Linked DNA regions of Homo sapiens: all the other regions are reported to be linked to region 1. Evidence: microRNA targets listed by miRTarBase, many of them from high-throughput screens and not tested one by one. Region 1 holds a microRNA gene; each other region holds the end of a gene's coding sequence.
Evidence for each region. Region 1 holds the annotated microRNA hsa-miR-124-3p (UAAGGCACGCGGUGAAUGCCAA, at 1,734-1,755, shown strand). A microRNA usually pairs through its seed, bases 2 to 8, with sites in the 3' UTR of a target mRNA and lowers its output. Matches are read on the target gene's strand: a 7mer-m8 pairs with bases 2 to 8, a 7mer-A1 pairs with bases 2 to 7 and ends in A, and an 8mer does both.

Region 2: miRTarBase lists BABAM2 as a target of hsa-miR-124-3p. The part of its 3' UTR that is shown has no 7-base or 8-base seed match.
Region 3: the mRNA of ZFYVE26 is a reported target of hsa-miR-124-3p. The part of its 3' UTR that is shown has no 7-base or 8-base seed match.
Region 4: miRTarBase lists TMEM128 as a target of hsa-miR-124-3p. Seed matches in the 3' UTR shown: 7mer-m8 at 2,777-2,783.
Region 5: the mRNA of SPTA1 is a reported target of hsa-miR-124-3p. The part of its 3' UTR that is shown has no 7-base or 8-base seed match.
Region 6: the mRNA of GALNT3 is a reported target of hsa-miR-124-3p. The part of its 3' UTR that is shown has no 7-base or 8-base seed match.

Annotation. Positions count from the first base shown.
Region 1 is chr20:63,176,819-63,181,907 of GRCh38, forward strand. MIR124-3 (microRNA 124-3) reads left to right here and starts at 1,682; the gene lies at 1,682-1,768. RefSeq lists an enhancer at 929-1,889 and a silencer at 2,177-2,466.
Region 2 is chr2:28,337,597-28,342,685 of GRCh38, forward strand. It overlaps BABAM2 (BRISC and BRCA1 A complex member 2), which reads left to right. Exons shown (of 12, transcript NM_199191.3): 12 at 854-1,305. The coding sequence ends at 917. Among named protein-coding and RNA genes, the nearest start is that of BABAM2-AS2, 30 kb to the left of the region's middle. RefSeq lists an enhancer at 2,374-2,993.
Region 3 is chr14:67,743,831-67,748,830 of GRCh38, forward strand. It overlaps ZFYVE26 (zinc finger FYVE-type containing 26), which reads right to left. Exons shown (of 42, transcript NM_015346.4): 42 at 2,692-4,809. The coding sequence ends at 4,606. Among named protein-coding and RNA genes, the nearest start is that of RDH12, 44 kb to the left of the region's middle.
Region 4 is chr4:4,233,447-4,238,535 of GRCh38, reverse strand. It overlaps TMEM128 (transmembrane protein 128), which reads left to right. Exons shown (of 5, transcript NM_001297551.2): 4 at 601-709; 5 at 2,280-2,994. The coding sequence ends at 700. Among named protein-coding and RNA genes, the nearest start is that of OTOP1, 9.1 kb to the right of the region's middle.
Region 5 is chr1:158,607,101-158,612,189 of GRCh38, reverse strand. It overlaps SPTA1 (spectrin alpha, erythrocytic 1), which reads left to right. Exons shown (of 52, transcript NM_003126.4): 52 at 801-1,486. The coding sequence ends at 926. OR10Z1 (olfactory receptor family 10 subfamily Z member 1) reads right to left here. Exons shown (of 2, transcript NM_001004478.2): 2 at 1-5,089. The coding sequence ends at 4,810. Among named protein-coding and RNA genes, the nearest start is that of OR10Z1, 4.4 kb to the right of the region's middle.
Region 6 is chr2:165,744,094-165,749,182 of GRCh38, reverse strand. It overlaps GALNT3 (polypeptide N-acetylgalactosaminyltransferase 3), which reads left to right. Exons shown (of 11, transcript NM_004482.4): 11 at 280-1,595. The coding sequence ends at 402. Among named protein-coding and RNA genes, the nearest start is that of GALNT3, 48 kb to the left of the region's middle.

The sequences.
Region 1 (5,089 bases):
GATCGGGGGCGCCCCAAGGACCCTATCGAGCTGGCAGTGACTGCAGTCGGGCCGTGGAGTGTCGCCTGTGATTCCGTGGTCCCTACGGGCAAGAGCTCCCATCCCGGTCTGAAACTGTGAGAACCGCAAGCTCCGATGGGGGCGGGGAAGGACGACCTTTAATTCCCACCCCACTGTACGGAGCCCAGCAGGGCCATCCGCAGGAGGCCGGCGGGACCCTTGCCTTTCTCAGGACTGAGAGGCTTGGAGGACCGCGGTGTGAGCTGCGCGGCAGAGTGCGTTCTGCAGGCGCCAGACAGGAGACGCGAACCCGCGGTCAGGGCCCGAGTGCGGGTGCGTGTCTGCGGGTGCCGCTGGGCTGCGTGCCGGCGAGGCGTGCGCGTGGCGAGGCGTGCGCGTGGCGGGGTGTGGCTAGAGGTGTCAATGTGCAGCTGGAGGGGCTGCGCGCGTGGGTGCAGGAGGGCCATGTGAGGGGCTGGAGTGTGTGGGAGACAGGCGTTTCCTTGGGTCTCCGTGTGGCCGCCGGGCGCAGGGCACGGTCGAGGGCGCTCGATGGCTGAGTCCGCGTGAGCCGAGGAGCGCGCGGGGCGGGACGCGGTGCGAATGCGCGGGAGGCACGAGGCGCGCAGTGCGTGTGTGCGCGTGTGCGCGGCGCGCGTGCCCCGCAGTTCTCAAGGACACCTCGGGGAGGCAGCGGCGGGGCCGGTGTCCGGGTGACGTCACCGCGCGCCCCAGTGATAATCGGCCGGTGCCGGAGCGGAGCGCGGATACGCGCGGAGGCAACGGCGACGGCGGCGGCGGCGGCGGGCGCGGGGACAGTTGCATCGGGGCCGGGCCGGGCTAGCAGGAGCTGGGCGCCTGCAGCGTGGACCCCGTGGACACTCGGCTCGCAGCCGGCCTGCGGCGCTCGGGGACTTGCCTGGCTCCCTTCTCGGGGTTCCCGCGCCCTTCTCCGCCCAGGGCAGCAGCGCGCGGGGCCCCCGGGAGCCGAAGAGCAGGCGGGAACTGGCGGCGGCGCGGGAGGCGCAGGGAGCGGAGGCGGCAGCAGCGGCTCCCGCCGGGACTGGTAATTACGCTCGGGGCCGGGCCGGGGCGAGCCGGGCAAGCGGCCTCTCTGGGTCTCCCCGTCTTTCTCTCCACGAACAGCTCGAGCGCCTTCTCGCGGGCCCGCTGCGCGCGGAGAGGACGAGCTCGCTGGGTTGTAAAAAGAGACGAGTTTTCATCTTTGAGCATCGAGATTCGTTCTTTTAACCGCATTCGGTGCGCGCTCCTGGGTCGGCACGGGCAGGGCGACGGCAGGGGAAGGCAGCTGCGGAGGAGCTCGCGCCGCCCAGTCGGAGCGGTTCTGCGCCCCTCGGAGCCCCGCGGGAGGCGGCCGGGTGCGCACGCGCTCACCACCCCCACCCCCGGAATCCGTCTTCGCGATTCCCGGGCGCCCCAGCTCCAGGAACGCCCGGAGGGACGCACTTGGGGGCCCACTCTCTGCCGCGGAAAGGGGAGAAGTGTGGGCTCCTCCGAGTCGGGGGCGGACTGGGACAGCACAGTCGGCTGAGCGCAGCGCCCCCGCCCTGCCCGCCACGCGGCGAAGACGCCTGAGCGTTCGCGCCCCTCGGGCGAGGACCCCACGCAAGCCCGAGCCGGTCCCGACCCTGGCCCCGACGCTCGCCGCCCGCCCCAGCCCTGAGGGCCCCTCTGCGTGTTCACAGCGGACCTTGATTTAATGTCTATACAATTAAGGCACGCGGTGAATGCCAAGAGAGGCGCCTCCGCCGCTCCTTTCTCATGGAAATGGCCCGCGAGCCCGTCCGGCCCAGCGCCCCTCCCGCGGGAGGAAGGCGAGCCCGGCCCCCGGCGGCCATTCGCGCCGCGGACAAATCCGGCGAACAATGCGCCCGCCCAGAGTGCGGCCCAGCTGCCGGGCCGGGGATCTGGCCGCGGGACACAAAGGGGCCCGCACGCCTCTGGCGTCGCGGGGCGGGTGGGGGCGGCCGAGGGCGGCCGAGGGGGGAGCCTGCGGCCGGGGCCAGGCTGCGGCCAGCCGGCCCCCGGCCACGTGTGTCCGCAGCGCGGAGCGCCCAGGCGCCCGCAGAGGGCGGCGGGGCCCGGGAGACAAAGGGAGGGTCCACGGGGAGCGGCGGGCGGGTGCGTGGGGCGGCGGGCTAGGGTGCGGCGCTGTCCGCGGTGCTGGCGGCGGGGCGGCCCCCGCGGGACGGGAGGGCGGCCAAGTGCGGCCCTCGCCCCCACAGCGGGCGCCCTGGACAGTTGCCACGGCAACGTGGGAGGAGGTGGGGCAGGGTCTGAGGTCACCGCTAAGTCTGCCCTTCCTCGGGCCGCTGCGCCGCGGGGCGGGGCGGAGGCGGCGCTCGCTGTGGCCCCAGAGCAGCCCCCGCAGCCCAGGACCAGGCTTGCATGGGGACGGGGGTCTGCGTCCGCGTCCAGGGTCCAAACGAGGGCGGTGGACACGCCGGACCGCATCCCGCCCCCAAAGCCGGCTCTGGGCTGTGCAGGACCAGGCACGTGAGACTCCGCAGCCCAGGGAGAAAATGACAAATCCCTCCCCCGCCGCCATCTGCAGCCGCAGTGACACCCACTCGGGTTTGCTGCAGGGGTTTTTTTTCTGTCCCCGGAAGCCAGCGCCACCTGCTGACGCCCGGCACCGCCTCTGCGCCGCCTCCCCCGCGCCCATCCCAGGCCCCGGCTGGGCTGTGATGCCCCGGTAACAGTCAGAGGACGACCCCCTCCCCAAAAGCCCCCTTCCCCTGGGGCGAGTGCCAGACCTGGCTTTGCAGCTTTGCCTCTTTCCTCTTAACCAGGTAGAGGCTGAGCCTCTCCTCCCCGGCTTCAATCCGAGGCAGGAGTCTGAGTCACCTGAAGTTCTCCCAGCTCCAGGCCCAAGGCAGGGAGCAGAAGATCAGGATAAAAGGAACCATTTGAGTTTCAGGCAGTGGCATCTCCACCCCCACCACCGCCGCTGCAGGGCCACAAAGGGAACCTGCCTCTGCGGCTGTCCTCAGCACAGACCTCCAGCCCCTCCACCCAAGTCGCCTGCTGCAGACACAAGCAGGAGCCACTGGTGCCTCCATCTTCCCACCCCCACCCCAGTCAGCCAGGCAGAGTCAGAACACGGTCCACCAGTCTCCTCAGGGGCAGGTTCCCCCTGGAGGGCACAGAAGTGGCATAGGCAGCCCCAGCAAGCCCCGGCCTGACCACAACACTGACCCCGGGGCTTGGCGTCCCCTTCTTCCTTCCTCCCGCTGTGAGGGGACAGGCAGCATCCCCCAGGGGCACTTCTGGTCCTAGAGAAGGGGAAGGGGCCCCAGGATCGTTCCAGGACAACACCAAAGGGACTGGTGGGAGTGGGGTGTTCCTTCGGGGTACAAGATGTGGCCCTAGCCTAGCTGGAGCTTCCTCTTGGAGCTCTGACCTCCAGCCTGGCCCTTCCCTCGGAGGGAAGGTGGCCCCTGGCTGCTCCCTCCTCTGGGGCCAGAGATGGGGGCTGGGGCTTTGTTCTTGTACCACTTTCCTTCCTGGGGAGGGGACTTGGCTCCTAGCCAGAATGGACCTTCCATGTCAGTAGCCTGGGGAGGGGGACACTTGAGAGCTGGTGGGAGCGCATGGGCAAACTGCCCTTGGCACTGTCCCTAGACAGTCAGTCTCTGTGGGGTCTCCTAGGAAGAGCTTCCTGGACTCTGTCACGGTCAGGGAGCTACCTCTCCTGATGCCTGCCCCCAGTGGTGCACCTGGGCCCCAGCCCCCAGGGCAGACTTGTGGCTTCTGGGCTGGAGCTCAGGGGGTCACAGGAAGGTGGGCAGCCCAGTAGGTATGGGGCACACGGGGGGAAGCTCACTGCGAAGGAGCTGCAGAGCTGAGTGCGCACCTTCTTGGGCCAGGCCTTACCATAGCTGTAGCACCGTCTGCCGCAGTGCGGGGAGGGCCCCATGTGCCACAGGGTCCACTCGGACCTGCAGCAGCTGAGCTGCTGGCCTCAGTGAGAGGCCCTTGGGGCAGGGGCCACCATCACCATGCTTTGCAGCCAACATGGACTGCCCTGCATGTCCAGCTCAGCCTCTCCTCCTCCTGCTCACACCCGCAGCCACAGTCACAGACATGCTCACACAGTCTCACCTCCCACGCACACACAGACACTGCCCGCCTCCACTCAGGAAGAGCTGGGCACATACCCCCAACTGAATCCTCAGCACCCAGCCTGCATTGGGTCGGCTGCCAGGCAGTGGTCCTGGTGGACAGCAAACTTGAGCCAAGGGCTTGGGACACCCTCTGACCAGACCATGACACCCAGCAAGGCCAGCTCAGGGCTATCCAGCAGGGCCCTCCCCAGTGTGGGACCAGAGGAAGACATCCCTTCCCTGACCCAAAGATTTTTATTCTGAATAAAACCTAATAAAGCTGCTGAGGCTGAAGCCACAGGCCCCACAGTCCCCTCTGAAATTCCTCCAAATCCCCCGGTCCACGAGCAGCAGAGGTGGGAGGAGCTGCAGGGGCCAGGCCACAATCAGCAGGGGCCAGGGCAGCCAGTCCCTCTATTCTGCAGCCCCTGGTCTCCACCTTGATCTCACCTCCAGGTAGGGCTCCCTGTGTGGCCATTGGCCAGGAGCCCCCACCCTCCTTCCCCTCAAGTCCAAGCCCCCTGGCAGGTCTCTGGCCAGGGCAGAGATTAGGAGCTGGCTCTCAGCCTCCCTGCCCCTGGCTGCCTCCTGGCCGTGCCCATAAGCCGGGCTCCTGGCAGTGATGACCCCAGAGTTCAGACCCTCACAGCCCAGCCTTCACCCCTGGTGCCCAGACCAGCTGCTATTTTGGGGCTGTGGGTGCCAGGAACAGTTGGCAGCTGGGTGGGGTGGGGCATAGGGGATAATGTTTGGGAATGAATTAAAAACTAAAAAATGAAATGATACAGGGTGACTCCCTCCAGCTTATTAGAGGGATGGAGAGGCCTTGCCCGACAGTGAGAGCACAGAGCAGAGAAGTCTGCCTCTGCTTGGTGACCCTGTCCCGAGGTGCCAGGAAGGTAGCAGGGTCTTCTCAAGTCACCGCTAGCCAGGGACATGGGCCAGAGGCAGCCCTGGAATCC
Region 2 (5,089 bases), not on the chromosome of region 1:
CTGGGAAATGTTCTCTTAACACCCAGCCTAGCTTTCTTTCCAGTAGACCAGACTGCATGTGCGTTTGGAAATAAATGGAGCCCATGAATCATTTAGAAATTATTAGGGCTGGGTGTGGTGGCTCAGGCCTATAATCCCAGCACTTTGGGAGGCCGAGGCAGGAGGATCCCTTGAGGCCAGGAGTTTGAGACCAGTCTGGGTAATGTAGCAAGACCCTGTCTCTGTGAAAAAATGAAAAAACAATTGCTGACATGGTAGCACACACCTATAGTCCTAACTACTTGGGTGGCTGAGGCAGTAGGATCACTTGAGTCCTGGAGGTCAGAGTTACAGTGTGCTGTGGTTGGACCACTGAACTCCAGCCTGGCTCACAGAGTGAGGTCCTGTCTCTAAAAAAATCAAATGTGTTAAAAAACTTATTAGACCCTCTTTGTCTTTATGAAGTCAAAGGTCCAACTGAGTGGAAAATGCAACCTTCCTGATACTCTAGATCACTAAATGACTGCGTGGTTCAATTGCACACACACTGTCTTGTAGCTTGGACCAGGCCCTTGTCTTTGTCCTGAAAAAAGGCAGCCGGACCTAAGTGCAGATATCTCATAGGAATTGGCAGCCAGGAGGGTGCACGTACAGGCCCTTTGAATATTCCTGAGAGATGTCACAGTAGTGAACTGCATGCATCTCCTCGGAAAAATCCGGAGGGCTTTGCCTCAGCAGAGAAGGCAAATCCAACCCAAGATGCATGAACAATAAATAACAACTGTTCTGAGTTAGCTTGAAAGCTCCCAGTTGCACTTTGTTTCAAGTTGTTTGTGCTAACCACAATTTTTTTTCTCCCCTTCTTTCCCACCAGGGCTTATTTCAAAACCTTTGTCCCTCAGTTCCAGGAGGCAGCATTTGCCAATGGAAAGCTCTAGGAAACACCAGTCTTGAGAGGTGGCCAGCCAGACTGCCTGTCCACATGCGTGTCAGCACATACAGCCGCTTCCTGGAAGCCGCCTGGAATGTCTTCACGGCAGCGTTTTGCTCACACAGCAGCTTTTGCACGCCCCAGGCAGCCCCGACTGCTGAAATCCAACTTGAGCTGGCTGGTGGTCCCTGGATCCTAGAGCCCTTCACTTCGGGTTACTCCCTCTTTCTTGCCTCTATTTCTTAGTTGGAAGAAATAAACTCACAAATTATGGTGCAGTAATTTTCCGGGGAAAGTAAAGCCTCAGGAATGCCCACGCCTTTCTTCCAAAGCCTTTGTCTCTGAGACCTCTTAAGTTCTAAGATTAAATGCCCCTCGCTGTTCTTCCTCTGAAACTAGTGTCTTCCCTCTGTGCGTGCATGTGTGTGTTTCATACCCAAGCATTTCCTATCTGGGGCAGTCCTTCACGGCGAGAAGGAGTTACCTGAGTCAATGTGACCAACCTGCTGGGTTTCAGCCACTCATCCAGCCTGACCTAAGGCTGTTGCTCAATAACAAATGGCCTCTAGCACACACAGCCCCACCCGCTGCCATCCATACCCCTCCAGCCCCCTGTGTGGACACCTTGTTCCCAGGCCAGCCCCACACAGTAGGCAGTCATTAAAGTTTGGTGAGTGCACCAACGGCTCTGTCCTTCCGGCTCTCCCCTCTCCATCCCCTCTGGGCCTCTGCAGCACTGTGTGAATTATACACAAAGACAAAGCTTGGGTGTCATGGTTTATCAGAGGAATGTGTCTGCTTTCTGGGCTTGGGGACTGGCAGTTGTGCAGCCAGCCAGGAACAGAGCTGGGGAAGATACCCTGAGCAGGCGACATCTTCCCTGAACTTACTGATCATCACAGCCAGAAGGGTCTTCAGAAGTCATCTCGTTTCTACCCCGTTACTCCCTTCAGTGTACAGAGGACAGAACTAAGGCCCAAGAGTTAAGGAAACATGCAAATTAGAAACAGCAAATTAGGAACAAACCTGGGAACTTGGAGCCAGGCCTCCTTGTACCATCACACACTCGCTTAGCTGAAACACAAGATGGCTACCGTCGGCTTGGCCATATCACCAGGTTTACAGTTTGGTTTAGCATGGTCCTGTCCTGATGGCCTTCCACACAGGGAAGCAGGGCCCACGCACCACCCACAGAGGTGAGGGCAAGAGCTGGCCTGGGTGCTCGACCTGACACCCTCTGGCCTTCCCATTCCAAGGCGAAGCCACTGGCCCCTCCTGCAGGACACACACATGATTTTACAGGGCCTCTCACCTGGTCCCTTAGTTCCCCTCGTGGCTATTGGAGCCCATTTTTACCAGGTGAGCGCAAAAGAGAACCATCCCTGGGCCCTTGTGAAGACTGGTGAGGAGAAGTCGTGCCTCTGCTTCCTGTGTTCTCTGGCACCCAGGAATGTTCTCAGGAGGCTGGAGATCAGCTGGAACAGACCTCCCATCTTGCCTGTCAGCTGGAGGCCTGCCCAACTCTGGGTTTTTTCACCGTGTGGGTACTATGCCCCCTACCCTGAAACTTTGGGAATTCCCAGGACAAGAACAACAGTCCAGTGTCCTATGTCCATATCCCAGCCCTGCCATTAACTGGCTATGTGGCCTTGAGTAAGTCCCTTCCTCTCCATAATATTAATACTAGGAGGGGGCTGGACTGGATTGTGGGCTCAGCTCATCAGATCACCCGGGGAGATTTTTTTAGGAACTACTGCTCTGGTAGTTCCCACTGCAGGCCTGTTGACTTGGAATCTCACTAGCTGGAGCTTAGCCTTCTAGATTTTGATAAAACTCCCCCAGCGATTCTACTGAGCAAGTGATCATGACCCACTAAGCCAGCTGACCACACTGGCACTGCTTCTGACCCTGACCCGCTGAGTGCCCACAAGAAGGTGCCCCTCTACTCAGGGCAGCTGTGTGCTATGCCCCATGTCCCCTCCATCCCCCACTAAGGTGCCATGGCATGGTCACTTAGGATTGCTAGGGGCACCCTCCCCTGATGGAGGGGTACGGATTGGGCTCTACTGTGCACAGCACCAAGAGTTGACTGAGCCCGGACTTGCTTCTGAGCTGCAACTGGGTCTGAAGCAAGCCCAGGCTCAGTCAACTCTTACTGGTTCCACTTCTAGCAGATGGTGGTTGGCACTGTGGGAGGGGGTGAGGTCCTGTGGACTGGTCGTCCCCTCAGCATTTCAAATAAGCATTCAGCAGTGACAGCAGCCAGTAGTGGGCAGTGTGGTCTGGGAATGTCATCCTCCTGCCCCTGCCAGCCCCTGGGGGCCCACAGACCCAGAAAACGAATGAGACCCTGCCCATCAGCGAAGCACACAGTCTAACTCAGAAGTTTTGCCACACACATTAGCTCACACAGCTTTACAGCAGACCTGGGCTGTGAGCAACTGAATAGGGTTGCTTTTGTTCCACAGATGAGGAAACAGAAGATGAGAGAAGTTAAGTGAGTTACCCACGATCACCGGCCGGTCAGGGCCGGAGCCAAGACCAAATCCAGGCTCTTGGCTCCCCTCCAGCAACAATTCTCACGTGTGTCGATACTCTCGTGAACAAACTGAAGCTTATTTTTTTATTTCCCAGTGAAGGATGATGGACGTTATATAGGTTTGTGAAGATGGAAATTTATGATTATTTTTAAAAGACTTTCAGCTTCCTTGCCACAGGGGAGGATTTGGGCTGGTTTTCTTAGAGGGGATTCAGCACAAGGTGACAGTCACCACTGTATGTTTCCAGAACCAGGGACTCAAACACCAGGGTTTGCGTGATTTTATCTTTACCCCGCAACAGCAACAGAAGCCGGTGGCGCCTGTAAACGAGTGAAGGTCACCTGTATATTTGTAAATACTTCCTGCCGGTTCAGCCTGTCATCGAGCATCGTACCTGCACACAGAGGGCAGCCCAAGACTAATTAGTAAATGGCTATAAAATGCTTTGAAGATGAAAAGAACCATATGTGACAGCATATTATTAATACTTAGTAAATCCTGTCTCCGGCTTACTCAGCCCTTGTAATTTCAGTTGAATCTCTCTTGCTTAGCACTGATGAGGAAAAGGACTCACACGTGTTTACCAGCAATACTTGGATATGATCAAGCATCTGTGAGGCCCCGAGAAGGAGGGGCAAGGGACCCTGGTTAGCCAATGCTCAGCTTCTTCCAGCAGCCCGGCTTCCTGAGGACCCATCGCCTACAGCCAAATGACCCTTTTTTTTTGTTTTGTTTTATTGAGAGGGACTCTGGCTCTGTCGCCTAGGCTGGAGTGCAGTGGCACCATCTCGGCTCACTGCGACCTCCGTCTCCCAGGTTCAAGGGATTCTCCTGCCTCAGCCTCCCGAGTAGCTGGGATTACAGGCACACGGCTGTAATCCACCACGCCCGGCTAATTTTTGTATTTTTAGTAGAGACGAGGTTTCACCATGTTGGCTGGGCTGGTCTTGAACTCCTGACCTCAGGTGATCCGCCCACCTCGGCCTCCCAAAGTGCTGAGATTACAGGCAGGAGCCACCACGCCCAGCCTCAAATGATGCTCTATTAAAGCTCATTTTCTTGTGGAGACATGAACTAGAAAGAATATGAAGTTGAGGATGAGAGAGGAAAAAAAAGAGAAGGACCTTGGTTTGTACAATTTGCCAATTTCTATGGTGTAAATACTCCCCCCATGATGGACTGCAGGCCACCAATGTGAGGTCACTGGACGCAGAGTTGGGAGGAGCAGGGAGGGTCATCGTGGGAGCCTCTGCTGGAGTGAGCTGGCCCCAATGTCTGTCTTTACTTAATCTGAGTTTTGTTATCCTCATCTATAAAATGGGAATAAATATCTGCCTCCCGGGGTTGTGAGAATTAAATAAGAAAAGTACCTAGAGCACCATGTGCAGTGCTTGGCACACAGTAACATTTGACAAACAGTGGCTATTATTACCGCAGACCAGAAAAAAGATTTTCTGATGTTGACTTTGGCCTTTTTCTAAAAAGTCAGAATGTCCCTGTTAAAAAGTCCTGCCAATGAATTTGGCCTTTGGAAAAGTGACCCTGTCTGGATTACCAGGAAGACAAAATGATGAGTCATCTTGAATTTTAACGGATAAGAGATGCGATGTATTTGTGGGGGTTCCCCACCCCCCACGCT
Region 3 (5,000 bases), not on the chromosome of region 1:
ATAGGCAGAGAAGTGAATAATCTGTACAGGAGATGGCACTCGATGCAGGACTGAGGGAAGAGGTTTGACAATGGTAGACTTGAGGGTAGGGTAGAGGAGGTGCTGAAGGAAGGGCTCCAAGAAGAAATAACAACATGCAGAATTAGCGAGCAGGAAAGCATTCCACCAAAGAAGCCATTCAGTGACCAGACATCGAATGAATTTGTTGTGGAAGAACTAAACATTTCAAGGATAGGTCAGTCAACATTATCACTGTGGAATAAGAGATGAAGGCCAGGAAAAGGCCATTTCCTCTGGGGTTACTGTGGCTATCGATATTTGGTTGCTTGGGTATTCAAAGAGTCTAATAGCCTTTGATCTACTTTGCTTAAGCTCCAGCCAAAGATATCTGGTAACCTTGGAGTGTCTCAGGTTTCTAAATATAGCAGTCATCTATCCTAGGTTTAGAGTGGGTGTTCCAACTTTCTCTGTTGTGACATATCTTTGTGCTACGTCTACTACCAGGTGGTTTTCAGGTCTACTTTAATCATTACTGTTGTTTGTTTTTAGATCTTTTTTAATTTTTAAATTTATTTATTATTTATTTTACTTTAAGTTCTGAGATACATGTGCAGAATGTGCAGGTTTGTTACATAGGTATACATGTGCCGTGGTGGTCTGCTGCACCTATCAACCCGTCAACTAGGTTTTAAGCCCTGCACGCATTAGGTATTTGTCCTAATGCTCTCCCTTCTCTTTCCCACCCACGACAGGCCCCAGTGTATGATGTTCCCCTCCCTGTCTCCATGTGTTATCATTGTTCAACTTCCACTTATGAGTGAGAACATGCGATGTTTCGTTTTCTGTTCTTGTGTTAGTTTGCTGAGAATGATGGCTTCCAGCTTCATCCATGTCCCTGCAAAGGACATGAACTCATTCTTTTTTATGGCTGCATAGTATTCTATGGTATATATGTGCCACATTTTCTTTATCCATTCTATCACTGATGGGCATTTGGGTTGGTTCCAAGTCTTTGCTATTATAAATAATGCTGCAATAAATATATGTGTGCATGTCTCTTTATAGTAGAATGATTCATAATCCTTTGGGTATATACCCAGTAATGAGATTGCTGGGTCAAATGGTATTTCTGGTTCTAGGTCCTTAAGGAATCGCCACACTGTCTTCCACAATGGTTGAACTAATTTACACTCCCACCAACAGTGTAAAACCATTCCTATTTCTCCACAGCCTCGCCAGCATCTGTTGTTTCCTGGCTTTTTAATAATTGCCATTCTAACTGGCGTGAGATGGCATCTCATTGTGGTTTTGATTTGCATTTCTCTAATAACGAGTGATGATGAGCTTTTTTCATGTTTGTTGGCTGCATAAATGTCTTCTTTTGAGAAGTATCTGTTCATATCCTTTGCCCACTTTTTGATGGGATTGGTTTTTCTTGTAAATTTATTTAAGTTCCTTGTAGATTCTGGATATTAGACCTTTGTCAGATGGATAGATTTAAAAAAATCTCTCCCATTCTGTAGGTTGCCTGTTCACTCTGATAGTGTCTTTTGCTGTGCAGAAGCTCTTCAGTCCATACTCTACACATTCAGAGAAACTTCTCTAGTAACGAACTATAGAAATGATCCCTCAAAGTATAGTTTGTTTTTTTTTTTTCACATGAGAAATTGGATGAGATCATGTTTCCGGGGAAAGGAGATAATGAGCAGTGATGCCACTGTCCATGGCTCAAGTATCATACTGCAAACATATGCCTGAAGTGGGTGGCAAGAAAACAGTTTAAGCTAAGTTTGAGTTCTGCTTGCCCCAAAGACCCTACACCTGGTTTCAAAGATTGACAATTTGGTTGATATTGAAAAGATATGTAGAGCTTTTAAAATGACAACAGCTTTTTAAAGCATTTTAGAGGGCTGGGGCACAGGGCCAGGGGAAGTAGCCCTGTAATTCTAGCACTTTGGGAGGATGAGGCAGGATTGCTTAAGCCCAGAAGTTCAAGACCAGCCTGGGCAACATAGTGAGATACTGTCTCTACAAAAAATAAAAAAAAATTAGCCAGGCGACTGCACTCCAGCCTGGGTGACAGAGCTAGACCCTGTCTCAAAAAAAAAAAAAAAAAAAAAAAAAAAAAAAAAAAAAATTCACTAAAGAAGAAACCTTTCACCCATCGGACTAGCATAGATCCAGAAAATTTGGTATTCTGAACAAGATAATTCAATGCAGCATAATCTGTAGTGGCGAAAGATGGCAACAACATAAAATGTCCATCATTAGAAACTGGTTAAATAATTGTGGTATAGCTTCACAGTGGAACACTTTAGTCATTTGCTCTGGAACTGTACACTAGACACTGATAACAATGGTGGCCTCTGGGAGGGGACTGGGCTGGGTGGACAGGGTGGAAGGGACTTTTCACTTACCTTTTGCACCTTATAAACGTATTACCTATCTCTACCCATCCCCCAACTGAAGCAAAAAAAAAAGTTTTCTGGTGGTAGAGGGTGCACTAACAGTGTTTAAACACATAGGAAATGAGATAAATCCTAAGCAAAGTCATTAGTCATTATGGGGATTATTTAGACTAAGTCTGAATTGAAGGCCATCTGATCTTCCCCACTCCCTTTTCTTTCCACAAGGAAAAAGGATGCAAAGGGTAGGAGCAAGACAGCACCAAGAAGTTATGAAGCCAAGAAACATGTTGATAGACACTTTATTGTGGCTTGTTTGTAGTAAAACATTCAACCCCTCAACATGGGTATCTGTTTTGGTGGTGTTTTTCTGTTGGAGACTACAGCGTGGTGTTCAAAGGCTTTTAGCCTCATCTCATATCAGTCTAGTCAGTGGTTGCCTATAATTTGATAGTTCAATGAGTTAGAGGAAAATGTCAGGAAAATCTGGTCTTATCCCAAATTAAGGGCTGCAAGATTTGTGACCCATTAGTATAAAGTGCTTATGTTCAGTGCAAAAAAGGCAGACTCAGAAGGGCAAGCAGACGCCAGAGAAGGACATTTCCTGGGAGATGGATACGTTCTATGACTCAAGGAAGGAAAAGCCAAACTTTAGCCCAAATGGGTCTAGTAGTTTCATTACAGTCTTTCTCCTCTCTAACAGGACCAAAACTTCTCATCTGACAGATGTCCATGAGTTGTTTATTTTACTACTAAAAATCTTGGTTCAGAGGGAAATCCACAGGGTTTCTGAGCACCAGAGACACTGACTTCAGCTTCCAGTTTCTGTTTGTCTCAGCATCATGGATGGGACCAATAGGCTGAGCTCTGGCCAGTGAGAGGTTCAGAGCTGCAGAGCTTTCTTTAGGCCCCACATTTGCAAATTGAAGTCACTGAGTATGACACACCTTTTCTCAAACATTGTCACATCTTGCGTGGGAAGACAAGACAGTGCATATTAAAGAAGCACTTCACCTAGTTTTCCACCAACCAGATGTGACCTATTCATTATTCCCTCATTCTGACTCTGTCCAGAGGCCCAATTCCAAAGCCAACCCTTGACTCCCTTTTCTAAGACAGAGAAAAGAAGCGCACTCCCTTCCCAATGACCCCACATGTCTGCATATCCATCCTGTGGTCCTGAAGAGACTGAAGGGAAGCAGGAGGGAAAAGGAAGCAGCTTCCTAACCAATTCAAGGAGCGCAAACAGGACTGCAGCTCAAATAGGTAAAATCGAGTCATTCAGTCCTAGGATCCTGGCCACCTTTTCTCTCCCCAGACTCTCAAAGAGGAAGTCCCATTCTCTCACCCACCAACTTTGCAGCAGGGACATTCACAACAGGCAGCTCTGTGCTTGTGAGCACCCGCTCCCCCCACCACCCCCCACCGCCTCCCCTGTATCCCTGTTTGGATGGTTAGCCTTTCTTTCCCTCTTGCCCGTGTTAGCCTCACAGACCTGATCATTTATACACATACCCACAGCTTTCAGATGCCTGCACCTGAAAACCCTTCTATTCAGACTACCTTCCAAAGACTCCAGGACTTCTTGTGCTTGGGAGAAGAGACACCTGGAAAACAGGTTTATTCCACAGGTAGCACTTGCCCCAAAGCCATCTCTGAATTTTGGAATGGGAAGGAAGGAAAAGAGGCAATCCTTTTGGTGTTGCTCTAATTCTCTGTAAAAGCCCTCTAGGTAAGAGGAGCTACTAAAGCACGTCCACAGAGGGGGGACTATACAAACAGGACAACCCGGGTCAAGAACCAAAACGCAGGGAAGGTTTTCAGAGTGGCAAGTCTAAAGTAAAGTGCCTCTTTTAAATGGAGAAGAGTTTCATTTGTTCAGAAATGCTTGGGCGTAAACATCAGCGCACAGGAACATGCACACGTGTGTGCACACATACTCACTCACTCACTCTGAGGTAGAAAGAACTGGCCATCTCCAGACAAACACACATAGATTCCACAATTTTAGAGAAACATGGCACTTGCGTGAAAGGTCCTATCCTTGCCCGGGAAGGCAAGTAGGGTCCAATCCAACTCTTTCCAACCTAGGGCAGAGCCAGAGAAGTCCCACTCCACTGGAGGAAAGAGGTGGAGGGCATCGCCATCACTGCTGTTGCCCAGCTCTCAGGCCACGTGTTCCTGGCCCCACTGCCCAAGGTCACTTCCTGGAGCCTGGGCCATGGGCACCCCGGGGGTGGCTTGTCAGAAGCCACTGGGCACAGATGTCTTGCACTACTGCATCCCCGCTGCTCTTGGCGGCCTGCTGCACCTGCTGGACAAGGGCTGTGGCCCGTGAGTGTTCTTGCTTCACAGCAATCAAGTAGGCAGAACGCAGTTTGCAACATATCAGGTAGGCCCGAACCTGGCAGTCAGTTATAAGAGACAGCGGAAAGGCATCCATCACCGACAAATCAAGTATACAGAGCTGCAGCAGAAAGCTCGGGCAGACAGACACCATGTCTCACCTGCCACGTTCATAACAGGATTCATGTATTTTATGGTATTATAACAACTCTTTCAATATTCTGGACATATGCTATAACACTGTGTTAT
Region 4 (5,089 bases), not on the chromosome of region 1:
AGTTATTTAATACTCATACTTATCAAACTATTATATATTAAAACCAATAACCATCTGAACTTATTTGAATATAGTTTTCCCTATTCTGTTCTTAGAAATTTCAGTCATTAAAAATCTTTATACTTAGTGTTTTAATTTTACTTTGATGACAGGAATAGTGTTTTTCTCAATGAAAGATATAATAGCAGCTTATAAGTGATAACTGTTTTCATTCTGTTTTTAAGAGACAATATTTTGGTCTTTTTTACCATGATAGTTTAGTGTGTGATGTCATAAAAATGGGCTGTAGCCATTTAAATTATTGTTGAAGTCAGAAACTAAGAGACTTCAGTTTCTATTAAGCCATGTCAACCCCTATTAGGAGACCTTTAGTGGTTCCAGTTCCAGGGCCTTCTTGAAGAAATTGTGATACTTGTTTAAGTATATCTAGAGTTTTCCTTTCCAGCATTGGCTAAGTCACATACTTGAGAAATATGATACATAGAGAAAGTTGCTGACTGGATGAACTTTTCTACATTGAATACTTTAAATCTGGATTCTAGAATAAAATATATTGATGCATATTGGAGTTGTCAACTGTTTATGTCTTGTTCTTTTCAGCTTCAACATTGCTTTATGGCATGTGTGGTCGTTTTTCACTCCATTGTTGTTGTTTACCCAGTTTATGGGGGTTGTCATGTTTATCACACTCCTTGGATGATTTCCGAAGGTAAGATATCTGGAGTGGTTTTTCTAAAAATGAACTCGTTTGAAAAATGTCTTTTATGACAATTTTCAGTGGATGGAGCTGTAACAGACTATTTGTGAATTATTTTCAGTCATGTTTACACCAGAGTTGTCCACACTAGAATTATCCATTCATTGAACTCTGAGATAGACTCCTTTTTGTTTTGAGACAGCTTCTCACTCTGTTGTCCAGGCTGGAGTACGGTGGCATGATCACAGCTCACTGCAGCCTTGACCACTTGGGGGCTCAAGCAATCCTCCCACCTCAGTTTCCCAAGTAGCTGGTATTATAAGCATGTGCTACCATGCTTGGCTAATTTTTAAAAATTTTTTTGTAGAAACAGAGTCTCCTTATGTTGCCCAGGCTGGCGGGGGTTGGGGGCTGAGACTCTTTCTTTTGTAAAAGTTGGTTCTAAGTGACTACTTTTTAGAGAAGGTACCCTGCCTTTCAAAGACCTCATAAAGACAGGATTTGTACCTTCCAATATAGTTGAATTCACACATTAGACCATTTTATGTTGAAATTATATTAATTTGTGTCAGCTTATATTCAGTGACTGTTGGCTGGATCATTCTTAAGAAATGGGAATACAGGAAGAATGAACAATTTTACCTAATTGGGAAAAAAAATTCTGCCATCTTCTAATTATTCTGACTTCCTCATAAAAATGTGTTGGATGACACAATCAGCTTTCGTTTGGTGTTATTTATAGAATTTCTGCCTCCCTACAGATCACCCCATCCTGAGATCTGCTGCCTTACACAGTGGAGGCTGTTTTCTGAGTGTCGGATAACTCTGTTATTAAATAAGTGTATATTGAGAATACTCACTCCAGATGCTTAGGGGCATGGTGAGAAGGACAAAGATAGTGCCTCCTGTCAGGTCACTTACATCAGAACTTGCAGGAAACCTGCTTTATACAGCAGTTGACAGGTGTGGAAACTGAAGCTCATGGAAATAAAAGTTAATACGCTAAATTTTCAAGGAGTTAATGAAAACTGACATTTCTGCTAAAAACAGCATGTTCTCCCTGTGGGATTTTAAAGGAAGGTCAGTGGTAACTGTGTAAAGAAGAAATGGACATACTCTCATTGTTAGCAGTCTGAAAATAGTTGCTAGCACCTCCATGCCCACGCCAATGTCTCCAGCCTCCTTCAGGCACCTTGCTGTGTCTTGGGACCACTGGGAACCCTCACAGGAGGCCCTTCATTCCTGTACACCTGTGGTGCCACAAGCGGCTTTGGGCCCGGAGGAATCCTACACATCTCAGAACACTTCCTCACCTGACCCTGTCACCCATCTCCCCTTCTCGTGTTCTCAGCCCCTTCTTTGACTCTTGAATTTTGAGTTTTTACAGATGTTTGGGAGCTCTTACTCTGACATGAAGTTATAATTGGTAATGGAGACTCAGACAATGTTGTAGATTACAGAGTGAACTATGCTTTTTAGTGTTAAATGCAATAGCTTGAGATACAATGTTTTACTTGGTACATAAATGCTGGTTTTCTTTCAGATTTAAGGACATACACTTTTTTTTTTTTTTTTTTTTAAGAGACAGGGTCTTCTATGTTGCCCAGGCTGTCTTTGAACTCCTGGGATCAAGTGATCCTCCTGCCTCAGCCTTCGAAGTAGTTGGGACTACAGGCCCACGCCACCGTGCCTGGCTGGACATGTAAATTTGAAGTGAATGGTTAAACATCCAGCTAGCTGAAAGCATGGCAGACCCTAACAGAAAAGCTACAGTGTGTTTTTGCAGCTATGAAGTGAATGGTTTCCTGGGGAAAATTGTGACTTTGTATAACTGTTGTTGAAACCAGAATAAATTATATTTCACTTGCATATGCATAAATTATTAAAATTTTCAGAAGTCAGTGATACAGAAGTACTATTTTGCAATGTTAATCTGTTTGAGTCTTTGGAGAAAGTGGTTTCATTGTAGGTACATAGTGCACTGTTAATATTTTAAACAAGTAGTTCACTCTTCCATTTAAGGGATAGCAGTTCCTTGTATAAAATGACTGGATGTGTATAAAGGAATTATGTTGTCATGTGCCTTTAACCAGCTTTAGTAATTACTATAATCTCATATTTATGATAGTTTTGTTAGGTGACAGGACCAAATGAAAATATTTTATGTTTTCTCATCACTTTAGATTTTATCATTATGTACATTACTGGGTTTTTAGCATTTCCTAATGTGAAGTTTTAATCACTTTTAAGTATACATTTTTTTCTGTATCATTTAAATAAAATATTTTTATAACTTTCTTGTGAGTTTTGTTCATGCGAACTTTGGAATAACTTCTGGTTTTTAGCTATTAGCACTTTGAATTAACTGTAGCAATAACAAGGGCTAACTCTGTTCTTCAAAGACCTTATAAAGACAGTATTTGCACTTTCAAATGCCAATATGTCTACATTAAATCTAAGCAGCATAAGCATTGTGACAGAATGTATCTCATGTTGATTGTTTTCTCTGTAAGGTGACTTCTAATAATGACCTGACTTAATCACCACTTGTGTCTGGTTCAGATCATACCCTGCCATTTACTAGCTGCAAGACCTTCAGTAGTACAGGTTTAGTATCCCTAATTTCAAAATCTGAAACTTTTTGATGACTGACGTGACACTCAAAGGAAATGCTCATTGGAGCATTTTGGGTTTTGGAATATAATGCAAATATTCCAAAATCCAAAACACTTCTGGTCCCAAGCATTTCAGAGAAGGGGTAGTCAGACTGTAATCTTTTTTCAGCTGTGAAGTGGGAACGATATCTGTCTTGTAGGGTTGTGCGTAATAGTAATAATGTTTGTAAAACACCAATTACAGTGCCTGACACAGTAGGTGTCCACTCAATAAATGGTAATGGAGAGGGAAAGAAAGGGAAAGCAGGATCTAGGATCAGGAATATCACATCCGGTCATGATGTCTGCAAAGGGGAAAGGCATGATGAGTAGACAGAAGCAAACCCAGTTTGTGGTCATGGGTATGTGAAGGTGTGGCGAGAGTGTCATTTAAAATAGGGAGCAAGGCCAGGCAAAGGCCACAATCAGGCAGCCTAGTCAGGCAGTGATTAATCAGGCAGTGATGTGAGGGTCTGGTACAACTGAGGCTGCAGCCCTGGAAGGTAGGGCATTTGGATCAGACTCCCTGGAGGGAGCTTGGGTGGAGAGTGCCCCAGTGTCAGCCTTCACACATTTTATATCTTTTTTTTTTTTTTTCTTGAAGAGTATGTTTACAACATGGATAGAAATCTAAGGCTGGGATGTGTTTAAAACAATTAGTTAAAACCCAGTTTCCCAAGAGCTAATAACTGGCCAATTAGGATGGTATGAAGATTATCCTATTACTTAAAAAAAGACTTTGAGACAGAGTCTTTAACTTGTCATAACATGTCTGAACAGGATCTAGTTTGAGACACTAAGAAGGATAAGACATCAGTTTGAGAAGAGACCACATCAGTGCAACATGAATTCTGCTAAAATCGAAGCAAGCACAAACATCAATTTATTGTGAGGCTTGGGTGAAAAAATGGTGAAATCACTAATGCTTCATGAAAAGTTTATAGGAACAATGCCCCAAAGAAATCAACAGCTTACAAATGAATAACTTGTTTTGAGAAGGTATGAGATGATGTTGAAGAGGAAGCCCTCAGTGAGAGACCCTACACATGAATCTTTGAGGAAAAAATTAATCTTGTTTATGCCCTAATCAAAGAGGACTGATGATTAACAGCAGTTAGCAATAGCAGAAACAATAGACAGTGTCAGAGACGTCTCAATTGGTTCAGGTTACACAATTCTGACTGAAAGCAAACTTTCCACTTGATGGGCGCCAAAACTGTTGTGCCCAGATCAGTTGCAAACAACAGCAGAGCTTTCAATGGAAATTTAAACAAGTGGGATCAAGATCCTGAAGCATTTGTTCAAAAAGTTGCAACAGGATATGAAACATGGATTTCCTAGTACTATCCTGAAGACAAAGCACAATCAAAGTAATGGCTACCAAGAAGTGGAAGCGGGTCAGTCAAAGCAAAAGGAGACCAGTCAAGAGCACAGGTCATGGCAACAGTATTTTGGGGCTCAAGGCACTTTGCTTGTTGACTTTCAGGAGGACCAAAGAATGGTAACATCTGCTTATTATGAGAGGGTTTTGAGGAAGCCAAAGCTTTAGCAAAAAATTCTTGGGAAAGCTTCAGGAGAGTCCTCCTCCACCATGACAGTGCTTCTGCTTATTCCTCTCATCAAGGGCAATTTTGGGAGAATTTTGATGGGAAATCATTACAGTCCTGATTTGGCTCCTCCTAACTTCTTTTTGTTTCCTAATCTTAAAAAATCTGTAGAGGGTACCCTTTTATCTTCA
Region 5 (5,089 bases), not on the chromosome of region 1:
CAAAGGAACTTGAGAAAACAGATTTTCCTAATACCTAAAGCATAAGGTAAGAAGATAGTAACAGAAAGTGAAAGGGAAAACAATTAAGCAGAAACCAGATTACAAAGGGTCACATACATGATGGTATCGTTTTGCACAAACTCATCCAATTGTCTAAACTCATCAAACTGTACACATTAAAGGTGCAATTCTTTATCAATCATACCTCGACAAAGCTGTTACAAAAAGAAAATGATGTGGTCTTCCAGACACTATCTGGAGCCACCCACCCACACGCTAACTTATTGGAGTCTTTAGGGATCCACTTGGTAATCAAACAGCACAGTGAATAGAGGAACTCTTTGGCATAAGAGGATCATAGGTTCAAGTCCCAGCTCTACCACTTTCTGGCAGTGTAACCACTGGTGAGTTATTCTACCTTCTTGAGTATTTTACCTTACTCATAAAACATGCTAGTCCCCACATCTCAAAGCAGCCAGGAAGATGAAATAGATCAAGTGGTCAACAAATGTTGTTAGGCATATAATTCCTTCTATTTAATAAAACAACTTTAGGGAATGAGATTTACAGAATAATCAAAGTGAGTAAGCTCTCTTTTTCAAGAAAGGGCTGAGATTAAAAGTTAAGTTACTCATTAGAAATTATAAATTTATGAGATAAAAATTGTGTGTAATAGAAATAGGGCTTGCGTCTTCCAGAGACTCTCCATCTCCTGCATTTATGGCGTAATATGGGAAGCCCCAAGGAACCAGCTATTTTGAATCCCTATAACTGTATTTTTCTCTTTTTATACTTTTCAGGCCCTTACCCCAGAGCAAGTGTCATTCTGTGCCACACATATGCAGCAATATATGGACCCACGGGGTCGAAGCCATCTCTCTGGCTATGACTACGTTGGCTTCACCAATTCCTACTTTGGCAACTAATAAGCAGCTCCTCGTGGATCGTAGAAAATCTTAGTGTCGTGGGAAATTTACTGGGGGGCAAAGAGTACAGGCAAATGTGGAAGATAAAGATGGCCTCGTGTGTGTGTGTGTGTGTGTGTGTGTGTGTGTGTGCTTGTGTTTGTGTGCATATTACATTTATTGTAGGATCTTAAAAAATCTCAAGGGTGGGAGATAGAAAGGTTAATAGAGTTGGAGGAGTGGAAGCTATTTTGTATGCAACTAGTCACTGCTGAGGGGTGTCAAAGTTTCTATTTTTATTTGTTCTGTTTTGCACGTCTTTATCATTTTGCTTTATTCCGATTATAGAATAAAGTAATTCTTTTTAAAAATATTTTTTGGGGCAAAGTTAAGTAAAATGTTGAGCTTCTATATTTCTGGGAACTGTACTCATATAAGAGTGGGCAGCTAATTTTACTGTAAAGAAGGGCCATGGTATAGTAGATAAATAAAATCCAAGGCAATTTTCAAACAATTTTTTTAAACTTTGGAATGTGTTTAAATTTAAATTTGAAAATAAAGATATTTGATTTTCTGGGGAACATGAATATTTTAGTTTGTACAATGAAACAACACACAGATCAGCATAACACCTGTTTTCTTCTTGTTTTTTTTCCATACTTCAAAATTATTGTAGATGTTATTACTCTCAGAAAGACAAAATTCCAGCATAGCAGGGCTTTCTCTTGTCCTCCAAGCTCCCGTATTTTCTCTTAAGTTTTAATGTAATAAAAATAATACTTCAATATCCTGTTAAAGTAACAGTTAATAGAATTATTTATAAAATTAAGAATTAATTTTAAAAAAAGAAGAGGTGATGCTATCTTCAAAAATTTTCAGGCCAGGTTTATTCTGAACAGGTTTATATGCCGACATTCTGATTTGATCTATAAAAGGTAATGGTGTCATTTGCTGGTGAGAATTCTTAGATATCTTAATTGCTGTGTATAAAACTGCTAGCGTTCTGCACAAATAGTCCCCACTTACCAATCCATTCATGTTGCCACTTGATTACCATCTTAAGTCTCAGTCCCTTCCTCTGCATAGAAATGAATCTGTGCAGGACAAATCCTGTCATAGGAGCCTTTTTTAAACAAAAAGTTGGTTAAAGCTAAAAAGTTATCATTGATACTAACAACATACAGGTATTTTAGTGATTCTTTTCTTAAATAGTCAAATACTATGGAATATAACAAGCAGAAAGTATTTTCAAAATTAATGTTCACAAATGTCTAAATTGCCTGATTATAAGTTACCAAAAATAGTACAGTTAGAAAAGATATAGGCCATCGAAAATTAGCATTGTTTAATATCACACTTACCACATATGGATAGTCTAAAACTATTTGTGCTGAAAATAATCACAAGCAAAGGTGGATGTGATTCCATTCCCCCAATGCTAACCCTGCCAAAAATTTTCAAGGCCTAAATCAAATTATTAGTCATTTAGTGGGTCAAATGTGTGTACCTGGAAGAAGAGTTTGCCCTTTCTAAGCGCGTAGTCACATACTTAATCAAGAGAGGAAATTTGAATCACCAAACGAGATTTTGAAGACTATTATGTTGTCCCTATCCCAAATCAATTGTTTCAAGGTAGAAACAAATTAGATAGATTCCAAAAACACCTATTTGGAAAAATCCCTCCAAGTGATTTTATACCCTTCCATACTTAAGACTACTACATGTGGAAGTTAGACCTCTAAGTATTACTTAGCAATACTTGAAACATCCTTACTAACCATTCGTCACTGTGCATTTAGTCAATGTTATGCTGGGCAGACTGAATGAACTGGTGAAATGAATTTGCTCACATGGCCTCAGTGCAATGAGGCATTACTTCTTCCAATATTGAGAACTTCAGAGTAGATGGCCTTTCTCCCCTGATGAGGCCCTTTTGGCTATCTGACTAACTCATCTACTTGTCTTCATCCTGTTCTCTTCTCTGAGCTCTAGCTTCCTTCCTCTCAAATTGTTTTCATCAAATTCCAATTAGAGGATGTATTTCTTTCCTGAAAGCATGAAAAAATATGGATTTCTGTCTGAAAAATATCTTCTCGGCCTAAGGTCTTTCCTTGTCTCTCAAGCCATGCCCCACTTCTATCTCACTGCCAAATCCTGTGAATTCTACCTTCTCAAAATCTCATGTTTGTGATTTCCTTCAGTCTCTGAATGTCACTATCCATATTCAAGCCTCTTTGCCTTTTTTTAAGCTGATATCCATGGGTTTCTTGCTGATCTCCTTGCCTCTGGTTTCTCTCTACTGAAATCTATCATCCCCTTTGCTGCTGGATTAATCTTCCTGAATCCCTTCCCAGATGCCTCTCTCTGTTCAACGTTTTACTGTGCCTTATCTCCTATAGACAAAAGGACCATGTCTGAAGCAAGGTATTCAAATTATTTCAACAAGTAAGTCATGACTCAAACTAACTTCTCAGCATCATTTGTGAGTTGTTTCCAGCCCCTCTGAATAACTCACACACATTAAACTAGGCTTATATTGTCTTACCATCAAGCCTTTGGCTATTACATTCTCTCTTCTGAGAATGTACTTTCTCCCCAGTCAGTGCATTCAAAGCTCACCCATCCTTTAGGAACAAGTTCAGATACTATTTAAGACATGAAGTCTTCTCTGATCCTCCACCTAGAGTAAACTCTACCTAAACTAAAAGCCAATATCTTTTTCCTTCACACATTTTAATAGTAGCAACTGGAATTTATTGGACGATCGCTATGATCCAAGGGTTGTGCTAAATTCTTTGTATGCATGATCCTGTTTAGTCACCAACCATTGTAAAGATAAGACTCGGAAGCTGAAAAAAATGTTAAATAACTTACCTAGAGTCACACAGCTAGTAAGTTGAAGAGTTTGGATTCAAACTCCTGCCTGACGGTCTTGTGAGTTCATTACACTTTCTCTAATAATGTCCGCCGCTATATATAACCACATTATATGTGGAAAGTGGAATAGGCAGAATAGATAGTTCTGCAATAGATTCAAAAGAACAGTATCCAATTTGATAAGCGACCCAAATGAGAAAGGTCTTTGACACTCAAGATTCTGAAGCTACCAGGGAACATTAACAGTTATAAAAAAAAATAGGAAGTAAATATATTTTCTGAAATAGAGTGCACCCAGCTTGGAAAATCAATCAAAACAAAAAGGGCAAAGTAACAGAGTCAGAGATAGTGAGGACAACTATATAAAAAGATGATTCCATGTTTTTGCTACTGTCAATAGCACAATGAGGAATGTATAAGCACATGTGCCCCACTGTATATGAAATAATAGTTGAAATTAAAAAAAATAAAAACATAAAAAGATGAAAGACACCCAGTGGGAGTAAAAATGACCCACCTGTTCATTTAACAAAGCTTTAAACTAACCTGTCAAGCTGATATTCCCCAGGTTTCAAATCTTGGAAGAACATTACAGGTCAAATAGTCTAATTATGTAATGATTTTAGAAATCTCTACAGTATCCCTGATGGGCTCCAGCCAGCCCTGCCTTGAACTTGAACACTCCAAACTTCCCTCATTTTGTTCAGCTCAATTAAAAAATTCTTGATTATCTTAATTAAATTTTTAATTCTCAATGGGTTTCAGTAACTAGGGGTGGCATCTAGGAGGCTGAAAGTTAAAATTCAGATTTTGGGCTCATTTTGAGTTGTGCACAGTGAGCAGAGCAGGAAGCCCCGCCTCTGCATTCCAAGCAGTCAGGGGGAAGGGCAAGAGGCAGGATAAGGCTTTCCCAGAAGATTGGGGGTAGGACAGCTTTGGCCTGAGGCCTTGAATACCTGGCCCTTTGGCTTGGGTTCTTGGTCTATGCCCAGCCTACACAGAAGAAAGTGTCCTATTGGGGTAACCTTCATCCTTTACCCAGCAATCTCCCTCTGAAAGCATTCCTCAGAGCTGTCTGTATAGCCCTATTCCTTAGACTATAAACAATGGGATTAAGGAGGGGGGTCACTACAGTATAGGTCATGGCAATAAGCTGATCTCTCTCAAGAGAGTAGCTGGCTTTGGGCCTCAGGTACACGAAGGAAGCACAGCCATAATGAATAATGACCACTGTAAGGTGCGAGGCACAAGTGGAGAAGGCCTTCTTCTGCCCCTCAGCAGAGGGGATCCTCAGTATTGCTGCCAAG
Region 6 (5,089 bases), not on the chromosome of region 1:
GTCACTTATGGATATATCAAGGGAATACTTCTTGTTTGAAAATGTGATTCAAACCTTGTTCTGTCTGCCTCTCTTCATTATGTAATATCTTACTAATTGAAGAGTAGTAGCTTAAAAGGTGGCATTTACACTAGAAGCCAAAAAGAGTTTATCAGACATGGCTCACCTTAGAAAGATTTGCTATTAGGTTTGCTTCAATGAAACCATAAAATCTTTTTCATATTTGTCACTTAACTATGAGTCTTGGAATTTAATGTCTGTTGTTTCCTTTTATTCTAGGATCAACTTCTATACAATCCATTCTTAAAAATGTGCCTTTCAGCAAATGGAGAGCATCCAAGTTTAGTGTCATGCAACCCATCAGATCCACTCCAAAAATGGATACTTAGCCAAAATGATTAAGTGTTCCTTAAAATTAAGTTGAAAAAGGAAATATTCTTTCTCATAAAACTGTGACTAGGCATACACTGTAGTTTTTGAAAATTATGCAAAAGCAGCTAAATGTAACTTATTCCAAGTGCATTTTTCTTATTTATATCTTTATGTAGCACTACTACAGAAATTCTGCAAGTTTCTGTTTCAAAGCACAATAACTAGTAATACCAAAGACTATTTCAAAATGTCCAGATGTAGGGGAAGAGATGTTTACAGTATGATGAAAATAATTTTCCAAGTAAAGTGATGTTTGTGTGTTTTGTACACTTAGGGATATATATATATAGCTACATTCACACACTCACAATTTAAAATATTTCCCCTAGTTTTTTGGGGGGATAGGAAGAAAGATTTGTTACTGTATTTTTTTAACTACATAAAAATAGATCAATAAATGTCAGCATTGGCCTCTGTGTACAAACCAAGAGCTTTTACAGATCCAGAATTTATTAGTTTAAAATGCAGGTGAACTTTTTTTTGCGTTTGGTTTACTTGTCTGTCAAATGTTTCCTTAAACATGAAACTGAATAAGGAGAAGAGTATTTTTAACACTTAAATTTCTTGGCAAATTTTAAAACATTTTTTAGTCTGTAATACACTCCACTTGAAGCACTTAAGTCTTCCTTAAATGACTTTTCTTAAGTAATGATACTGTGTGTTTTCCCAAAGCACTTTTAAAAAAATTTTTATAAATTACTATCTGTTGAAAAGGTGTCCTTTTCCTTTCTTCTAGTATTTTTTTCTTACCAAAATTCACTAATCTTGAATGTTTGTGATATTAAATTTCAAATGCAGAATACTTGACTCATTTAAAGCTAAATTTTGTTACTGATTCAATTATAATTGTAATGGATTTTTGACTTTGTAATGGATTCTTTTCATCAAAAAGCCTTATTTTTTTATCTATGTGGAAAACACAATAAAAAATCCTCAACACTATTGTAATCATTTGGTTAAGTTTTTTTCCTCTTTTGGGTAAAATCTGTAATTGATAATAGGTGGGGGAAAATGAATTTTGTATGCTGAATTTCTAAGCGCCTATTGTTTGTAAAACCATCAGATATTTCTTATGGCACAAAAAATGAGGAATAGCAAAATTCCTGTGTTCAATATTTAGAAAATTTTGTATTAATTTCTGATAAAGTTCCTTAAGCATCTGATAGAATGATGTTTTAAAAAAATTTGACGCTTGCTTAGGAGATTTACCACTTTTTTTTTTTGTTTTTCGTCATTTTATATTTAGATCTCCTGTATTCTTGTTCCCGAAGTAAAATACGATCGGTTTCATATTTTAAATCTGGCAGAGCCTCAGCTGTACGAAAAAGAGCATATACTGGTTATTGACCCTATCTTCTCATTGTTTGTTTGTAAGTTTGAATTTGTATTAAAAAGCCTGCATTCTGAGCTGGACATGGTGGCTCAGCTTCTAATCCCAGCACTTTGGTAGGCAAAGGTGGGAGGATCATTTGAGCTCAGGAGTTCCAGACCAGCCTGGGCAACATAGCAAAATCTCATCTCTACAAAAAGTAAAAATTAAAAAATGAAATTAAAAATAAAATTACCTAGGTGTGGTGGCACGCATCTGTAGTTCCAGCTATACAGGAAGGTGAGGCAGAAGCATTGCTTGAGCTTGGGAGATCGAGGCTACAGTGAGCTATGATTACACCACTGCACTTCAGTCTGTGTGACTGAGCAAGACTCTTTCAAAAAAAAAAAAAAAAGCCTACATTCTCCAGTTGATTATTTCAACTAATGTGTATTATGTGCCTAATTTTCTATCAGAAGTTGTATTAGCCCGTTTTCACACTGCTGTTAAAGACATACCTGAGACTGGGTAATTTATAAAGAAAAATAGGTTCGATGGACTCACAGGTCCGCGTGGCTGGGGAGGCTTCACAATCATGGCGGAAGGTGAAAGGCATGTCTTACGTGGAGGGAGACAAGACAGAATGAGAACCAAGTGAAAGTGGTTTCCCCTTATAAAACCGTTAGGTCTCGTGAGACTTACTCACTACCACAAGAACAGTGTGGGGAAAACCACCCCCATTATTCAATTATCTACTACTGGGCCCCTCTCACAACACGTGAGATTTATGGGAGCTACAATTCAAGATGACATTTGGTGGGAACACAGCCAAACCATATCAGAAGTGATGGTAGGCAGAGTAAGACTTGTTATTACTTTTGAGCTATGTCTCATGGGTCAGAAAGAAAGGCAAATAATTTTAAAGTAGAAGGTAAGTACCACTAGGCATGAATATCTATGAGCATATATTTCTCTTAGAGCTTATTATATCTCTAAACACAAAATTATTTCTCAAAAATATTTCATAAATGAACTTAAACATATTTTCAAAAAAACCAAAGTGAGTGCCCTGCATGTATCACTCATATGTTGATATATCATGATCCAACTGAAATCTACTTAGAGTAGGTTGATATTATTATGGGAAAGTCCTTCTTACCTGATTTGGCAGCCTCAGGCTATTGCTCAAGTGTCATACAAATCATGTCATTAAGGACTGGACCTTTAGGGTAGGTAGTGCCTTTTAAAAGTCTTGAGTTTTGGAACAATGATAACCGAGAGTTATTTATGGAACCTGGCTGCCATCCACCTGAGACTTAACTGCACTCAAGTGTGAAATTGTGGAATTCTTGCTCAATTTGAAGCTGCCATGGCAAATGGTCTGGTTGCTACAGAAGACCTGGCATGCTGCCTTCATTCCAGAGCACCAAGTCCTAAGAACTCTCGGTTGGTAAGCTGCACTGCCAGATCCACTAGGGTTAACCTGATGGGCAAGTTCACTGAAATCTGAGAGGGGATCACAGAGTTAACTATAGGAGAAAATAAGCAACACACTAAAATTGCCCATTACTATAACCAATGATGATGGATTTTTTAAGCCCCTATATTACCAGAGACTAGTATTGGACAATTTAGTTAAGTACTTTATATACCATCAAAATATAAGTGCAAAAAGGACAAGGTTGACTTTATCGGAAGGACTAGAAAAAAATCATTTTTAAAATGCTGTTATGTGTAGATGAGAATTGTAAAAGATAGGGAAAACAAAAAACTAGGCAGATTCTGTACTCAGATTGCTTCACAATTCACTTTAAAGACAGCAGAAATAAATATCTTTAGACAATGCATTTTTAGTATGCTTTGTGCAAGGAAGATGTTTGCAGAACTCTCAGAAACCAGTTCATACTCAGATAAAAGGCCTTGGGCCCTACAAAAGAATATCTGTGAAGGAATTAATACACATACAAATGTGGCATTGTGTGTGTGTGTGTGTAGTGTGTATGTGTGTGTGTGTAGTGTGTATATTTTAAATTAAAATATTTGACATCTTTTTATGAATTTATATTTTAATTACCTTTTCCAAATTATCAACCTACCCAATCTTCCCTTTTCCAGTCCTACAGTCCTACTTTTTCCACATCACCAGCCCAACTGCAAAAGAGATTCCTCCTGCACGCCTAGTCCCTCTCGCTCTCTAGGCTTCCACAACACCTAGGAAATTTTTTGTGTCTGTTTTTGGGATTTTATTAGGCACCAGGCACTAATAATATACAAAATAGTCCCCATCTGAAGGCGGAGAAAGTTATAGTTTAGTAATGTGGTCACCAATGTGGTCTCATAATGATGTTTTAAAGAGAAATAGTCCCATGATGAAGTCAACATATTCAACTTCTGGTGAGTCCACTGACAGGAGCTAGAGGAGAAAACAGGCACCCCATATTTTAGAGGTAAATAATTGAAGTAATGCTTCTTAAACCTTTTTGTACACACAATAATAAGATTCTGATTGATTAAGAATCAATCAGTTTGAATAAGATTTTGATTCATTAAGAATCAATCAGATTGAATAAGATTCTGATTAAGAATCAATCAGATTGAATAAGATTCTGATTGATTAAGCCTGGGGTAGAGCTTGTAATTTTGTATTTCTGACAAACTTTCAGGTGATACCAAAGCGGCTGGCCCTGGTACCGCGCTTTGAATAGAAAGGCTACCCAGTGAACCAATGCCCAGGGTTCTTCGAGACTACCATGATGACTTTGACCATGCTTGACATCCATAATTACTTCTAGTACGACCAGAAGTCAATGCCTCTCTATCAACCATTATCATCATTATTCTTCCCTGGCAGATCCTACATCCTTTGTATATCTCTAAGTTGATAAATCCCCCACCTTCTGATAACCTTCTACTCTGCAAACTTCTTTGATTAGAAAACTCTATTATATCAGCAATTTTGTCTCTGAAAATTCTACGTATTGTCTTGCCTTAACTGAACTGGACATTAATTAAGGATAAATCTTCCAATTCTAGTGAGGGTTATTGTTTTTTGTTTTTGTTTTCTATCATTCCTCTTGCACTTCAAGGCTAGGATTTGGGATAGGTGTGTCCTTCTTCAAAAATGCCCCAGCTTATTTGAAGCCGTGTCATGTGGATATATTATGCTCTACCCCTTCGTGCTGCTGTCAACCATGAATTTATAGGTCATTTATCTTAATTCATTCCCTGCATTAATTGAATACTTTAGTTCCTGTTGGCCTTTCTTTCTTTATACCTCTACTTGTGTCACCCTATGGGTGACTTCATTATTGGTGCAGATAACTCCAGCATTCTGAGCTCTCTGTATTT